2 separate regions of the Homo sapiens genome follow, and region 2 is linked to region 1. The links come from fine-mapping of genetic effects on gene expression. A gene starts in region 1. The other region holds a variant in brackets. All regions are shown on one strand. Distances are between the middles of the regions.

Region 1 (5,000 bases):
AGTCTCAAATTCCTGTCTCCAAGCAATCCTCCCACCTCAGCCTCCCAAAATGCTGGGATTACATGTGGGCACCATTCTGCCCAGCTGTAATTCTTAAAAATTATTATTAAAAAAGAACAAAACACATAGATGCCCTAGACTCAACTCAGCTCTACTGATCAATCTTTAGGGGTTAGGACTAGGCTTTTGAAATGTTAAAACACCCAGAAAACTGATGACCAGTCAGGCTTAGTATCCGCCATCTCTACCATTCATATGGTACTTAATGTTTCATATTTAAATGGAAAGGACACCTCACACTTTTTTGTTTTTCCTATAGTTCCTACTCAGAGAATATGCCTAATAAATATTTTATGAGAGTAGTACAGAAGTATGACTCCATTTTTCTCTTATATTTCATTTCAGTGTGGAAGGCTCTTTAGAAACACTATTAACATAACAGCATTATGTCAAAAAGCGCCAATAACATTCTCACCAACTTTTCTTTTTAAAGGAATTAGGTATAGCTAGACTGTAAAAGGCAAGTGGTGTGAAGCCCAAACCTAAGATCCTAAGATCTAGGATGAGTCAAGACTTCATAGTCTACATGAGTAGAGGCAGCATCTAGAGGAAAACAAAAGTATGTGGCTATCAAATTCCAAAGAAGCCCCATTTTATTACAGAGAAAATACAAAGCCGTTTCCTCACAGGGAAAAGTACAGTTTCCCTTCTCCAGGGTGACAGATGAGCCTTTTCCGAAGTTCTCAGCTTTCTCTTCTATCGAAACTTCCCATGTCGGTTAAAGTGTTTGTAGAGATAGCGGATGCGTTTATTAAGGTTGTGCAGGTCATCAGCGAACATTCTACTTCCAACCATTTTCCTCTTTCGGATACAACGTTGCAATTCATTCCCTTTCCAACCTCGAAGCCATATGGGCCCCCTGATCAGTTCTTTGGGGTGCTTTTCAAAGTTTCCTGTGTAATGTGAGAGAACACATTAGATCCAAGACAAGAGAACTCATCCTACACCAGCTAAGCTTTCAACCCACGGTTGCATCTTGCTGAGCAGCACCTATAGACAAGGAACATTACAGTACAGAACAATAGCACAGACTCTGGAGCCAGACTGCTTGGGGTTAAAATTCTGATGCTGCCATTTATTAACTTTGGAAAAACTGTTTATTTTTACTTATGAAGTAAAAATTATACGAGGGGACTCAGAACAGTGCCAAACACAATGTAAACAGCTACATAAGTGTTTGCTCTTACTATTGAGCACAGTACCACTCTCTACACAGGAGGAAAAGATAGTCGTTACAGCCTAATTGCCATTCTGAAATTGTGTACCACGTCGAAGGTCAAGTCTTACCCAGGATCCCGATGTTGTCATACACTCCGAACATGGCCCTTTTCTCGTTCCAACGATCAACCACTTTGGGGGGCGGGAGAGTGAGCCTTATACCGATCAATCTAGGCACACCTGGGGATGGGGAAGGGAGGGAATTAATCTGAGCCGCCTATTATACTACGAAGCAGTTATCGGGGTGCCTACATCAGCCACTTACCAAGAGAGAAGCTTCTGCACGCCAGAGGCACCCAGTCCCACAGGCGCCTACCTGCCCCGGATAAGAGGTTCCCTGCCATTTCTCTAGTCTCCCCCCTTCAACAGCACACCAAATAAGCCCAAGAAGATGACAGGAACCGTCCCCGCCAACTTCACACGAGTACTAAGGCGAAGACAGCCATCTTGGGCCTTACCCAGGCAGCTGTGGGCGCACCGCCCACCTACGCCCCATCCGCAACAGCCACGAGCCCCGCCCCCCGGGTTCCGGCAGGAGGGGCCTCTACCACCCTTCCCGCCTCAGTGCTTCCGGTCCGCCTGCCGGAAGTTTTGGAGCGCCGGACAAGCTGAGGTCCGCGACTCGTCGCTAAGATTCCCCAAAACTGAGATTTCAAGAAAATTCACCCTTTCCGCTTTCTTTGGCGTCCTTCAACCGTGAAGGAAATGAAGGTTGAGAACCTGGAACCCGCTTCCAATGACCAAGCCCTTTCTCTGTGCCTCACAACAGTCTTCCGCTGTAGCTGTTTTTATTACCCCTATTTTACTACTGGGGAGGAGATTTGAGGTCCTGAAAGTGAAGTGACTTGCTGGACGTCACTTAGCAGAGGAGATGGCGAAACCTGGATTAGAGGCGATGCCTTCTAACTCCCAGCGTGGACTTGCCTCCTTTCCTGGGGGTGACTGAATGCCCAGCCAGGGACGCGACGTCTCTGGCCAGCAGAAATACGGCCTCCTCCCCGCCGACTGGGCAAAGGGGGACCTTGCGGCCAAGGAGGGATTCGCAGGCGGGCCGGGGGTGGGAGCGGGGGCCGGAGCCGGAGCCTTGGCCCGCCCCCGGGCGGCGCTGTGATTGGCCGGCCGCTCCGGCGGGCGTCGCGATTGGCCGTCCTGCAGCCGTTGAGATTTGAACTCGGTATTTGTGGCTTTGCCCGCGCGTTGCCAGACTCAGAGGCGGCCCTTTGCCTCTGCCTGCCGGGGATTGGCCGGATTCTCCGCCGACTTGAAAACTGCCTTGCTAATTGGTGCGTGTTGTGCACGCGTGTTTTTTCCTTTTCATTTCAGCCTGACTGCCGGAATCAGAGCCGCGGGTGAGATCCCCAGGTAAGATGTGGTGTTGCAGGTCGTAAAAGAGTAGGAAAGTCGAGTACATGGCAGTGTGACCCAGTCTTGGGCAAAATACAATAGGCCTAGTAAGTATATCCCTGGGGCGCGATGTGTGAGAAACTGTAAGTCTGACAGATCCGCAACGGAAGTTGTTAAGCAAATCGCTTAACAGATCCGCAACGGAAGATGTTAAGCAAATCGCTTAACAGATCCGCAACGGAAGATGTTAAGCAAATCGCTTAACTTTCTTACTTCAATTTCCGCTCTGTAAACTCATTTGTATTATTATGCACCTCATGGGATTGAGGTTAGGATACTTAGATCAGATATGATACATGCAAACAGCCTAACAGACTTGGCACAGGATAAATAAATCATCATTGTTAATGCTCTTACCATTCTGGTGCAGGAAGCCCACTAGCCCATGCTGGGGCACTGTTTTGGCCTCAGACGAGATCAGACCATTCTCTCTATACTTAAGGAGCTTTGCACATAAAAATGGAAATAATAGTACTTTGCACATTAATATGCCACTTTATAGTTCTTTAAACACCTTCGTACTGCTTGATTTGTTTGATCATCAGAGCAACTTTGTGAAGTAATCAGAGTTTAGTAACCCTGTTTTTACAGATAAAGCCCAGAGGTTTAAGTGTCAAGACCAAGTGCCAAAGTCACTACTAGAATTAGTTTCTAGTCCAGGGTCAATCTCAGATCCCGTAAGATAATGTTACTAGCTTGCTATAAAACTAAAAACCATTATATATGTTGGGGGTGGGGAACTAACAAAACCAGATGATGTTACTAGCTTGCTATAAAACTAAAAGCCATTATATATGTTGGGGATGGGAAAGTAATAGAACCAGATACGAAGACAGGTCTTGAATATAGACCCTGACTTTTTCACTGTTTGGTTTCTAGCCCTGTGAGCCTGTAGGAGTAGAATGGCTCCCCAAATGTATGAGTTCCATCTGCCATTATCCCCAGAGGAGTTGTTGAAAAGTGGAGGGGTGAATCAGTATGTTGTGCAAGAGGTACTGTCCATCAAACATCTTCCACCACAGCTTAGAGGTAAGAGTCCATAGCTGTCACTGTACCTAGCTCTTTCAAAGGACCATCTCACATGGAATTGCTACATTGTCATTTCTGTTCCACTACACCAGGAAGCATCATAAGAGCAAGAAACATGTTTTTCCTATTTTGCTGTTTTATCCTAAAATTGCATGGGATGCATGACCCAAAGAGTACATTCATTAACTTCCTTTTCTGGATTAGTCAAAAACAGTCTTGGTGTATGTGATTACTCTTTGGGGAAAAGTTATTTTCCATCTTTACCCCTTACTGTGTGTCAAAATTAAGTCCTGGTGGATTTAAGAGTTATAGGAGTGGATCGCTTTTTCAGAATGTCTCGGACTTAACTCGACCTGTTTTTGGTAATACCTTTTTGGAGTCTTTTTGGATGTGCAATTATGGGGACAAAAACCCATAATATATATGTACCACTGCAACACTGAGCAATATATGTACAGTGCAGTCACCTACTGAAACCTGTAAATGATCAAAAGCACCTTTTGCATTACCAGAAAGACTTCATAATGTCCTTGTACTTGTTGGGAGCGGTCTTGTAGCAGTTAGCTTGCTTTGGAGAGGTATAGAGATTAAAGACTGGAGCCAGGCTGCCTGGATTTGAATCCTGGTTCTACCACTCTGACCTTAGACAAGTTACTTAATTGTCTCAGTGCCTTGGTTTCGTCATCTGTAAATATAGAGATAATAACCAATTCCTTTGTTATCACCTACAAGAAGAAGGGTTGGTTAATGCAGCAGCTCGACAATATGGTCCTAGCTTGTCTCCTCTTGGCTTTTCTTTCATGGTTGCTAGATTGCAACTTCTTTTTGTTTTTCTTTTTTTTTTTTTTTTGAGACAGGGTCTCACTCTGTTGCCCAGACTGGAGTGCAGTGATGCGATATCGGCTCACCACAACCTCTGCCTCCCCAGGCTCAAGCGATTCTCCTGCTTCAGCCTCCCAAGTAGCTAGGATTACAGGTGCACGCCACTACCACCTGGCTAATTTTTGTATTTTTAGTAGAGACGGGATTTCACCATGTTGGCCAGGCTGGTCTTGAACTCCTGACCTCACATGATCCACCCACCTTGGCCTCCCAAAGTGTTAGGATTATAGGCGTGAGCCACTGCACCAGTCTAGATGGCAGCTTCTTCCTCTAATGTCCAGAAGTGGAAAAAGGAATTTTCTTTTTGTACTTTTTATTCTTTATTTTATTTTGAAAGACAAGGTAAAGACTCTCTTGCCCAGGCTGGAGTCCAGTGGCATGATCACGGCTCACTGCAGCCTCAACTT
Region 2 (5,516 bases), 39 kb after region 1:
GTCATGGTTTACCTTGGAGTTCACTGCACGTAATGACATGTACCCACCATTGCAGTATCATACAGAAGAGTTTCACTGCCTTACAAATCCCCTGCACTCCACCTATTTATCCCTCTCTCCCCACAACCCCTGATCTTTTTACTGTTGCCATCACTTTGTCTTTTCCAGAATGTATCATTGGAATGATCCGGTATGGAGCCTTCTCACCTTGGCTTCTTAGTAATGTGCGTTTAAGGCCTCCATGTCTTCCATGGCCTTGTTTCTTTTTAATCAGAAGTAACTGTTTTCAGGCCTGCTCTGAATCTCCTTTTCTCCCTCCAGGCTATAATAGATGAATTTGAGCAGAAGCTTCGGGCCTGTCATACCAGAGGTTTGGATGGAATCAAGGAGCTTGAGATTGGCCAAGCAGGTAGCCAGAGAGCGCCATCAGCCAAGAAACCATCCACTGGTACGTAAGGCAGCCTGTGCGGGCGAGACCAGACTGGGCCCTCCCCTCCTGCAGTGATTTGTTTCTTCTTCTTTTTTAAATCACGTTTTCCTGCCTTTTCTAGGTTCTAGGTACCAGCCTCTGGCTTCTACAGCCTCAGACAATGACTTTGTCACACCAGAGCCCCGCCGTACTACCCGTCGGCATCCAAACACCCAGCAGCGAGCTTCCAAAAAGAAACCCAAAGTTGTCTTCTCAAGTGATGAGTCCAGTGAGGAAGGTATGATGCTCCCGCCTGTTCCCGGCCGAGAAGGCACACAGCTAGGGTGCAGAGGGCTGGTTTCCATAGGACCTGCTGCGGGGGCCTGAGTGTAGATGCTCTGCCCCACTGCCGCAGAAGGGCCTCTCCTGTACAGCTTGGATTTTATTTCTTCTGTGCGGTGTGGGATTGTCTCACTTGTTCTCTGATATCTATTTTTTCACCATCTTTGTGACTCAGCTTTTTCTTATTCCTTTAATTCTTTGCATAGATCTTTCAGCAGAGATGACAGAAGACGAGACACCCAAGAAAACAACTCCCATTCTCAGAGCATCGGCTCGCAGGCACAGATCCTAGGAAGTCTGTTCCTGTCCTCCCTGTGCAGGGTATCCTGTAGGGTGACCTGGAATTCGAATTCTGTTTCCCTTGTAAAATATTTGTCTGTCTCTTTTTTTTAAAAAAAAAAAAGGCCGGGCACTGTGGCTCACGCCTGTAATCCCAGCACTTTGCGATACCAAGGCGGGTGGATAACCTGAGGTAGGGAGTTCGAGACCAGCCTGACCAACATGGAGAAACCCCATCTCTACTAAAAATAAAAAATTAGCCGGGCGTATTGGCGTGCGCCTGTAATCCCAGCTACTCAAGAGGCTGAGGCAGGAGAATCGCCTGAACCCAGAGGCGGAGGTTGTAGTGAGCCGAAATCACACCATTGCACTCCAGCTTGGGCAACAATAGCGAACCTCCATCTCAAATTAAAAAAAAAATGCCTACACGCTCTTTAAAATGCAAGGCTTTCTCTTAAATTAGCCTAACTGAACTGCGTTGAGCTGCTTCAACTTTGGAATATATGTTTGCCAATCTCCTTGTTTTCTAATGAATAAATGTTTTTATATACTTTTAGACATTTTTTCCTAAGCTTGTCTTTGTTTCATCTTTCACATTAGCCCAGTTTCATGCAGCAGAGAGAGGGTTATCAGTGCAGAGAGAGATGAGTGAGCCCAGAGTCCTAGGGCCTGTCCCGGGATGGCAGATGAGCTTCCTGCCCCGTCACTGCCACCTTTCCCCTCTCAACCTCTGGACCCTGCACAGTGACCAGACAGCCTCTCTGGGGAGAATTATGCAGTGCCTAGGCTCCAGATCAGTGCTTCTGAACCGGGGGCAATTTTGTCTGCCAGAGGACATCTGACAACACCTGGGGCCTGTTTTGTTGTCATAGCCTATAGGGGAAGAATGCTACCAGCATTTGTGGGAAGAGGCCAGGGATGTGGCTCAACATCCTGCAGTGCACAGGATGGCCCCTCAACAAAGAATCACACGGCCCACAATGTCAATAGCGTCACAGTTGAGAAAACCTGCTCTAGACCAAGGGTTGCTTTCTGCCGTGTGCCTCACCCCACCCCCACTCGTGTTCCCTAATCCCATCTCCAAAGGTTGGCAGCAGACCGGCCCAGGCTCGTGGAAGTTCAGATCATGATCCCCTC[C/T]AGCTCTGCAGGAGACAAGACCTGTCTCCCAGCATTCCTCATTGTTCCCGGGTCTGCAGAGGGCGTGAGCTATGCTGCAGGCGGGCTGCCCCCTGAAGCCTGCGCACCCCTCTCCAGCTCCTCAAGTCTTCTCTGCTGAGTCACCTTCGAACCGGAGGCTGTGAGCTGGCTGTCGTGACCACACTGGTGCCTCTGCTGTCATGACAACAGCACACTACGTCAGTAGTGCTCCCTGGGCACTGAGCTCCCTCTTTGCGGGGAGAAGACAGTAATGAAAAATGACAAGCATGAGGCAGAGGGGAAGATCACGCTTGGGTGGTGCAGGAGCATGGAGGTGCTCTTAATGCTCTCAATGAGAAAGGGTTAACGGTCCTGGTTGCAGGAATAGCTGAGTCAGAGGTGGGGCTTCCTCCACTCCCCCACCCCACCCCTTTCACCATTAGGGACCTTCTTGCCTTGCTCTTGCTACTCTGCTCTGGGTGGTCATTGTGAAAAGCCCGCACCAACCATGCCAGTGGCAGCCAGACGAGGACACAGCCTGGCTCTGGGTCCCAGCAGGAAAGGCAATCCCAGAAAGGCAGGGTCAGGGACTGGAGTCCTGTGGGTGCTTTTTAAGCAAAGATTATCACCAGGCAGGCTAAACTTAGCAACCGGCTTTTAGCTAGAAGGGCAGGGGGCTGGTGTCAGGTTATGCTGGGCCAGCAAAGAGGCCCGGGATCCCCCTCCCATGCACCTGCTGATGGGCCAAGGCCACCCCACCCCACCCCCTTCCTTACAAGTGTTCAGCACCCTCCCATCCCACACTCACAAACCTGGCCCTCTGCCCTCCTACCAGAAGAATGGATCCCCTGTGGGAGGGGGCAGGGGACCTGTTCCCACCGTGTGCCCAAGACCTCTTTTCCCACTTTTTCCCTCTTCTTGACTCACCCTGCCCTCAATATCCCCCGGCGCAGCCAGTGAAAGGGAGTCCCTGGCTCCTGGCTCGCCTGCACGTCCCAGGGCGGGGAGGGACTTCCGCCCTCACGTCCCGCTCTTCGCCCCAGGCTGGATGGAATGAAAGGCACACTGTCTCTCTCCCTAGGCAGCACAGCCCACAGGTTTCCAGGAGTGCCTTTGTGGGAGGCCTCTGGGCCCCCACCAGCCATCCTGTCCTCCGCCTGGGGCCCCAGCCCGGAGAGAGCCGCTGGTGCACACAGGGCCGGGATTGTCTGCCCTAATTATCAGGTCCAGGCTACAGGGCTGCAGGACATCGTGACCTTCCGTGCAGAAACCTCCCCCTCCCCCTCAAGCCGCCTCCCGAGCCTCCTTCCTCTCCAGGCCCCCAGTGCCCAGTGCCCAGTGCCCAGCCCAGGCCTCGGTCCCAGAGATGCCAGGAGCCAGGAGATGGGGAGGGGGAAGTGGGGGCTGGGAAGGAACCACGGGCCCCCGCCCGAGGCCCATGGGCCCCTCCTAGGCCTTTGCCTGAGCAGTCCGGTGTCACTACCGCAGAGCCTCGAGGAGAAGTTCCCCAACTTTCCCGCCTCTCAGCCTTTGAAAGAAAGAAAGGGGAGGGGGCAGGCCGCGTGCAGCCGCGAGCGGTGCTGGGCTCCGGCTCCAATTCCCCATCTCAGTCGTTCCCAAAGTCCTCCTGTTTCATCCAAGCGTGTAAGGGTCCCCGTCCTTGACTCCCTAGTGTCCTGCTGCCCACAGTCCAGTCCTGGGAACCAGCACCGATCACCTCCCATCGGGCCAATCTCAGTCCCTTCCCCCCTACGTCGGGGCCCACACGCTCGGTGCGTGCCCAGTTGAACCAGGCGGCTGCGGAAAAAAAAAAGCGGGGAGAAAGTAGGGCCCGGCTACTAGCGGTTTTACGGGCGCACGTAGCTCAGGCCTCAAGACCTTGGGCTGGGACTGGCTGAGCCTGGCGGGAGGCGGGGTCCGAGTCACCGCCTGCCGCCGCGCCCCCGGTTTCTATAAATTGAGCCCGCAGCCTCCCGCTTCGCTCTCTGCTCCTCCTGTTCGACAGTCAGCCGCATCTTCTTTTGCGTCGCCAGGTGAAGACGGGCGGAGAGAAACCCGGGAGGCTAGGGACGGCCTGAAGGCGGCAGGGGCGGGCGCAGGCCGGATGTGTTCGCGCCGCTGCGGGGTGGGCCCGGGCGGCCTCCGCATTGCAGGGGCGGGCGGAGGACGTGATGCGGCGCGGGCTGGGCATGGAGGCCTGGTGGGGGAGGGGAGGGGAGGCGTGTGTGTCGGCCGGGGCCACTAGGCGCTCACTGTTCTCTCCCTCCGCGCAGCCGAGCCACATCGCTCAGACACCATGGGGAAGGTGAAGGTCGGAGTCAACGGGTGAGTTCGCGGGTGGCTGGGGGGCCCTGGGCTGCGACCGCCCCCGAACCGCGTCTACGAGCCTTGCGGGCTCCGGGTCTTTGCAGTCGTATGGGGGCAGGGTAGCTGTTCCCCGCAAGGAGAGCTCAAGGTCAGCGCTCGGACCTGGCGGAGCCCCGCACCCAGGCTGTGGCGCCCTGTGCAGCTCCGCCCTTGCGGCGCCATCTGCCCGGAGCCTCCTTCCCCTAGTCCCCAGAAACAGGAGGTCCCTACTCCCGCCCGAGATCCCGACCCGGACCCCTAGGTGGGGGACGCTTTCTTTCCTTTCGCGCTCTGCGGGGTCACGTGTCGCAGAGGAGCCCCTCCCCCACGGCCTCCGGCACCGCAGGCCCCGGGATGCTAGTGCGCAGCGGGTGCATCCCTGTCCGGATGCTGCGCCTGCGGTAGAGCGGCCGCCATGTTGCAACCGGGAAGGAAATGAATGGGCAGCCGTTAGGAAAGCCTGCCGGTGACTAACCCTGCGCTCCTGCCTCGATGGGTGGAGTCGCGTGTGGCGGGGAAGTCAGGTGGAGCGAGGCTAGCTGGCCCGATTTCTCCTCCGGGTGATGCTTTTCCTAGATTATTCTCTGGTAAATCAAAGAAGTGGGTTTATGGAGGTCCTCTTGTGTCCCCTCCCCGCAGAGGTGTGGTGGCTGTGGCATGGTGCCAAGCCGGGAGAAGCTGAGTCATGGGTAGTTGGAAAAGGACATTTCCACCGCAAAATGGCCCCTCTGGTGGTGGCCCCTTCCTGCAGCGCCGGCTCACCTCACGGCCCCGCCCTTCCCCTGCCAGCCTAGCGTTGACCCGACCCCAAAGGCCAGGCTGTAAATGTCACCGGGAGGATTGGGTGTCTGGGCGCCTCGGGGAACCTGCCCTTCTCCCCATTCCGTCTTCCGGAAACCAGATCTCCCACCGCACCCTGGTCTGAGGTTAAATATAGCTGCTGACCTTTCTGTAGCTGGGGGCCTGGGCTGGGGCTCTCTCCCATCCCTTCTCCCCACACACA

What was found.
Region 2: its variant is fine-mapped to the expression of NCAPD2 in whole blood (TOPMed, PIP above 0.99).

The regions. Positions count from the first base shown.
Region 1 is chr12:6,491,515-6,496,514 of GRCh38, forward strand. It overlaps NCAPD2 (non-SMC condensin I complex subunit D2), which reads left to right and starts at 2,588. Exons shown (of 32, transcript NM_014865.4): 1 at 2,588-2,640; 2 at 3,562-3,711. The coding sequence starts at 3,585. It overlaps MRPL51 (mitochondrial ribosomal protein L51), which reads right to left and starts at 1,748. Exons shown (of 3, transcript NM_016497.4): 1 at 1,544-1,748; 2 at 1,348-1,458; 3 at 372-953. The coding sequence starts at 1,622. The coding sequence ends at 757. RefSeq lists enhancers at 1,966-2,015, 2,183-2,780 and a silencer at 2,216-2,545.
Region 2 is chr12:6,530,370-6,535,885 of GRCh38, forward strand. NCAPD2 (non-SMC condensin I complex subunit D2) reads left to right here. Exons shown (of 32, transcript NM_014865.4): 30 at 322-448; 31 at 552-707; 32 at 958-1,586. The coding sequence ends at 1,043. It overlaps GAPDH (glyceraldehyde-3-phosphate dehydrogenase), which reads left to right and starts at 4,148. Exons shown (of 9, transcript NM_002046.7): 1 at 4,148-4,200; 2 at 4,441-4,492. The coding sequence starts at 4,464. GAPDH-DT (GAPDH divergent transcript) reads right to left here and starts at 4,038. Exons shown (of 2, transcript XR_002957397.2): 1 at 3,095-4,038; 2 at 1,547-2,774. RefSeq lists enhancers at 2,290-2,419, 2,380-3,153, 3,154-3,927, 3,928-4,701 and silencers at 3,330-3,579, 4,300-4,439. The variant C/T (reference allele first, on the strand shown) is at 2,168.